2 separate regions of the Homo sapiens genome follow, and region 2 is linked to region 1. A link means that fine-mapping ties the variant in region 1 to the expression of a gene that starts in the linked region. Tissue or cell type: minor salivary gland. Region 1 holds a variant in brackets; the other region holds the start of a gene. All regions are shown on one strand. Distances are from middle to middle.

What was found. PIP is the estimated chance that this variant, and not a neighbour inherited with it, causes the effect.
Region 2: B3GAT1-DT starts here. The variant in region 1 is fine-mapped to the expression of B3GAT1-DT in minor salivary gland (GTEx, PIP 0.94).

Annotation. Positions count from the first base shown.
Region 1 is chr11:133,479,910-133,482,672 of GRCh38, forward strand. The region is part of intron 1 of OPCML (opioid binding protein/cell adhesion molecule like); the gene reads right to left. Among named protein-coding and RNA genes, the nearest start is that of OPCML, 51 kb to the right of the region's middle. The variant A/G (reference allele first, on the strand shown) is at 1,125.
Region 2 is chr11:134,435,446-134,438,208 of GRCh38, forward strand. B3GAT1-DT (B3GAT1 divergent transcript) reads left to right here and starts at 1,037. Exons shown (of 6, transcript NR_033852.1): 1 at 1,037-1,339.

The DNA.
Region 1 (2,763 bases):
AGCTTGCCTTGCTAATACCACCTGCTTTCTGAGCACCACCCAAGGAGCCAGCCCGGGAGGCTTGTCACCTCAAAATCAAGAAAAAGGGGAACGTTTCTAAAAGGGGCAGTGCCTAACTTAACCAATTTCTGCACACTCATTCTGTGGACCCCAATCCAAGACACACAGTGCTCTGGGCTCCCCACTTTTTCCTTCTTAGAGCAGGCATCCCAGCACATCCACCCCTTCCCTTCCCTTGATCGGATGGCTTGGTCTCAGTCCTGATCTCCTACATCTACAGCTAACCCATGCTTGCTCATCCATTCACTGGTGATCTCTTGCCCTGAACTGGCTCTGTTGAATCTCTCACATCTCATGAGGTGCTATTATCACTGTATTTATTTGACAGATGAGGAAACTGTGGTCCGGAGGGTTGCCTGCCTTGTCCTTGTTCATGTAACCTGGAGTGGTAGAACCAGGCTTTGGCCTTGCTCTGCACCTCGGCATCCCACTGCCTTCTGCTTTTTCTGAGTTCAGTGAGTGTGTGCTCGTCCCATCCTTACCAGTGTCCAGGGCCTTCTGCCTTCCACTTGCTCGCCACGTGACTTAAGAGCCACAGTGTCTGGTTTATGATCTGCTCCCTCTTTGAGACTTGAACTATGCCCTCAGGCAGCATCACTCAGGCTCTTGTTCTGACTGTAAAATCCTATCCATTCTCTACCAGGTCTGGATTAAACCTCCTATCATGCATGAAACTCTTTCTGACCCCTTTTCTGTAAAACACTATCTCCTTCCCCTGAAACCTTGTTGTGCCAGCTAACTGTCTTGTATTATTATGCATCTATTCCAGTGCCATCCATATCTGACTTTCCTAAGTTGGAGATAAACTGCTTACAGAGGATCATGCAACATTTGTATTTTTAAGCCCAATGGCATCTACCATAGAGCTTTGCCTGTAGTTGATACAATACTGAATGGGATGACTGAATAATCTGGACCTAAATTACTTGCTTTGTGTATGAAGTCTCACTTCTGTGTCATGCTGGAATTATTTTCCACTTAATTACATGCCATGGCACCAAGAATGCAAAGGCTTTTGTTCACACTGAGTGGGGCCCAGGCACTTGGGGGCTCTGGCCAGGCCT[A/G]TGTAGACATAGGTGGCAAAGATAACTGAAGAGATTACTTAGATGAATAGCTCACCAATGCTAAATAATTTTATCGAGATTAACCATATATGACTGTGAAGTTGTAACACAAATTTGGGACCAGGATTTCATCATGAAGCTAATTCAATTTGAGACATTCATTGAACAGCTTATAAATACAAAAGTACACGAGGCTGCCTCTGTCCCAAAAGAGTTTACAATCAAATATAACATTAGAGCTTAAAAGACCCTTAAATAATAAGAATCTAATCACCTCATTTTACAGGAGAGAAGAGTCAAGCCCAGAAAAGGGAAATTACTGATCAATGGCCACACAGCTTCCCAGGGGCAGACACAGTATTAGAGCCCAAGTCTCTGCCATTGTACCATAATTCTTCTCCCCAGTTAAAAAAATAAATAAATAAATAAATAAATAAATAAATAAATGTATGTATGTAACTGTGGCTACAATTTTAGATAGAGAAAATAAAATGTATTCAGGCCATCCATGGGAATTATTTTGTAGCAGAGGTCCACAAAAGATCATGTATCTTAAATCAGTGGTGAAATCCATTGTTTATTGATAGGTTTTATTCCACTATGAAAAATAGGCTATGACTACACTAGGTGCTATATCAGAGGTCTGTCTGAGTTAAGCCTCGAGAAACAGTTTAAATTTACACAGGGTGAGATGAGACAGAAAAAAAGGGGGAAAGTTAAATGAAATAATGTGCAGGACAGTGTTCATAACCTTTAAACAAAACTAATGTAAGGTGTTGACTATTCAACGGGATGGAGGAGTACAGGAAGGAGGGATGGGACACTGAGGCCCTTCTATTCCAGGGATGGCAAGTAAAATGGACCGACCTAAAGGTCTGATTTCTAGGAGATGAGAGAGGAAACCTGAGGTCAGAAACCTAATGGGCTTCGAGTGTCATGACAAGGAGTCTGTACTAAAGAAATTCCAAGTGGTGCAGTCTCCATAAAGCAGAAACCTGGGCACTTAGAGGAATCGGAATCAGAGTAAAGCAGATAGCTCTGTCACTAAGGCACAGCCTTGGAAGTGGAAGCAAGGAAGTCAGAAAAGCACAGTAACTGAAAATTCAGGGAACCCTGAAGCTGGGTTTTCAACTCCACACAACTCATCAATATAGATCAATGGTGGTGAGAGGAGTCACAGATATTTGGGAGGACAATGATGCCAACGGTGTCATCAGTGACATGGGAAGAGAACATCTGAGAGGAAATGGGAGTTTGAAATCAGACGTCCTGCATTTGAGGCAGCAGACAACATGGAGTTAAGGGTGGCTAGCGAGGTGTTCCTTGTTAGCATATCTGGTTCACCGGTTTCATACGGGAAAGCATGGGTTTTACAAATTTACAACAGCAAAAATATCAACAATGTCTGTGAAAAGCCCCTGGAGGATCTGGGTGCTGCCTTACACCTGAGTGGGAGGGAGGGTAGGCAGTGGCCACAACCAGAAGGGAGGGTGGCCGGGGCATGGCAGTGAGGGGTGAGTGGGAGGAGGCTGCTGAATGCTCCTGTTACCTCTGTCCCATCTCACCCTTGAGCAAAATGAGCCTGTTCTGTCACCACTGAAATCAGCTACCAGAGCTTTAAGATTCAATAAAGATGGCA
Region 2 (2,763 bases), 960 kb after region 1:
AGCTGAAAAGCTGATGACATAAAGTCTGTCTGGGATCAGGCATGATTCTGCGTGCCCAAATGGAGCACAGATCCCTTCCTTCCCAGGGTTCCAGGCTGGCTCCTCAGCCAGGCTCATGGTGTAGGGAGCTGGTCTTTCTTGGCCCTCACTGGGACCTGGCTGTCCATGAGTGGGTGGAATTCTGAAGCCTACCTCTTCTGGATCCCTTTGGCTACATCCTTTATTCATGGGCCATGCCCTTCCTTCAAAGGCTTCAACCTCACACAGATCTGGGCTAGAACACGGGCTTGCCCCATATGTCTTGACAGCTCACCGAACCTTTCTGAGCTTTTATTCTCTTACCTATTTAATGAGAGTGGTGTGTGAGGGTCCACCAGGTAATCTGAGTGATGCCCCTCGCTGCCTCTGTCCCCTGGGGGTCATTCTGCCCAAAGGGGTGCATAGCGTCAGGACCACCAACTCCTCCCAGAGCACTGAGGTCCCTGCTGCCCAGTTAGTGGGTCCCAGGGAAGCCACGTGGCATTTGGAGTGGCATTCCAATCTTGCACTTTCAGGGCCCCCTCTGTGGTTCTGAGAGGAGGAAACAGCTCTAACCTTGGTGATCCCGACTGTGCTGGGCCCTGGGTTGTGAGGCAAATGGAGGGCAGAGGCCCTGGGGGAGGACACGTCCCTCACCACAGTCACTCCCCAGTGCAGCAGTCAGGGGATTTCCCAGGGTGCACTGGGCCAAGGGGCCAGACTCTGAAGTTCATGGGGTTAAGGTCTCCCCGCCAGCCAGGTGACGGCAGCCTCCTCGCCTTGCCCAGACAAGAAAGCCTCGATCTAATCTCACTCTGAACTTTTCCCAAGGCTTTTGCTACGCTTTGCTGTAGCTCCAAAGCCGCATTAGTGAGCACCACGCTCCTTTATAAATGGTCTGTGACCCCAGAGGTCTGCTCGCTGAGGGAGCTGTCTATTTCGGGCATTGTGGGTGGAGGGGGCATCTCAGAGGCTTCTGGAAAATTCCTGATGGGATTGTGTCTGTGTTCTGTCTCAAGCCTCCAATCAACAGATCAGACAGCTTGTACTCACAGGCCAAGGACACGTGGAAAGAGGCTCAATTTTCTAGATGGGTGGCAACAGCCATGATCTTCTGTCCTCTGGGTCCCCACAAGCCTGGATGAACTCAAGATCTGACTCAGTGGCACAGTGAGGAGACCTTTGAGGCCTCAGTGACCATCCTTGGACTTCACCTCTCACGGCTTTCAGGCAGAGAGGCCCTCCCATGCCCACAACAGGCTGAGCCCAGCCTTCCTCGGGGTTTGCTTCCAGGCCTGACTTTTACTCCCCTTTCTAAGTGGTAAGTAGCTTGGTGATGGTGGCTGAGAAAGAAACAGAGAAAAAACATACCTTACAGGCAGAACTGTCATAGTTCTCAAAAGACCAAAGTCACAAGGGCCTGTGGGTGCCTGCACGGCTGCCCAGAGGGAGGGTGACGCCAGCCACAGGCCCATTGCCTTTGTAGGCCAGGGTCCTGCAGTGCTGGCCCGCAACGCTTGATGGGAGGGGGCGGCTCTGTCTACGTGTGAAGAGCCCAGGGTGGCTGTAGCTTGCAGCGGATGGCATTCTCAGTTTGCCCGTTACTCCCCAGACAAATCTCCCTCTGGCCCCTTTTCCTTTCTGTCTTCAGTGGGGGTCGGGAGGCGGCAGCCCCAAAGACCTCTCCTTACCACCTTGTCTTTCCCATGGAGGTTCCCATGCAACACTTGTCCCTGTCCCTGAAATTTCAGACTTCTTTCCACAGCGCAAAGCCTCGGGCCTTGAGAAACTGCAGTGAGCAAGGGGAACCTCACCCCCAAGCTAAGGCAAGAATGCTGGCTCTTCCATCGCTCCTAAGTTCCAGGCTGACCTCTTCCTCCAACTCAACATATTCAAAATGAAACCCAGCGTCTTTAGCTCACCCTCCTTCCCCGCTGCCCCTGCCAGGGCCATGGCCACACTGACCCACACCCCCCGGTCACACCTCCAGGCCTGGCAGTAATATTGCCTGGACTCCTTGAGAACTGCAACCAGATTAATCGTCCCAGAGCTCCGCTTTGATAATATCACTTTTATAGACACATGAAAGGAAGCATTTAGGCAGTCAGTCATGCTAAATCTTAACCACCTTTACAGATTTTTTAGTGCAGCCCATCAAAATTGTCACCAGTCCTGAAGGTCCCACATTTATGGTGTCCATGATAACACCTCCCATGCCAGAGGCAGCAGCACTTGGAGGTGGTGCAGAGCTGGCACTGCAGGAGCTGTCCTCGCCAGGCCTGATCTCACAGCCAGGGCTGCTTCTCCTGGTTCCGCACAAAGCCCATGGTGACCTCCTGCACCTCCCACTCCAGAGGCATAACTGAGCAGTCTGTCTGGGCACCATCAGCACTCCTCTGCGAGGTGACAGATTACAGCTCTAAAGATGTTGGGCCGTTAGGCATTACCTTTCCAGTCGCTGGGTGCAAGGGGGCCTGGGAGTCCTTGGCAGGGGCTGGCATGGGCAGGCTGGTCGGGCTTCAGCAGCAGCTGTGGGCCAAACAGCATGGGAACAGTTGTACCAAGGCAGAGATTGGACTAGAGGGGAACAGGAACAGGACCAACAGTTTTGATTCGCGGGCGTTGCGTTCCAGGTGGTTGTTTTCTGTGAAAGCCCCATTGATGTCACAGTGACGTATAGTAATAATTAAAAAGACAGCACTTGTAAAGACATAGAGACAGTGATGAATAATCACAATTTGATGA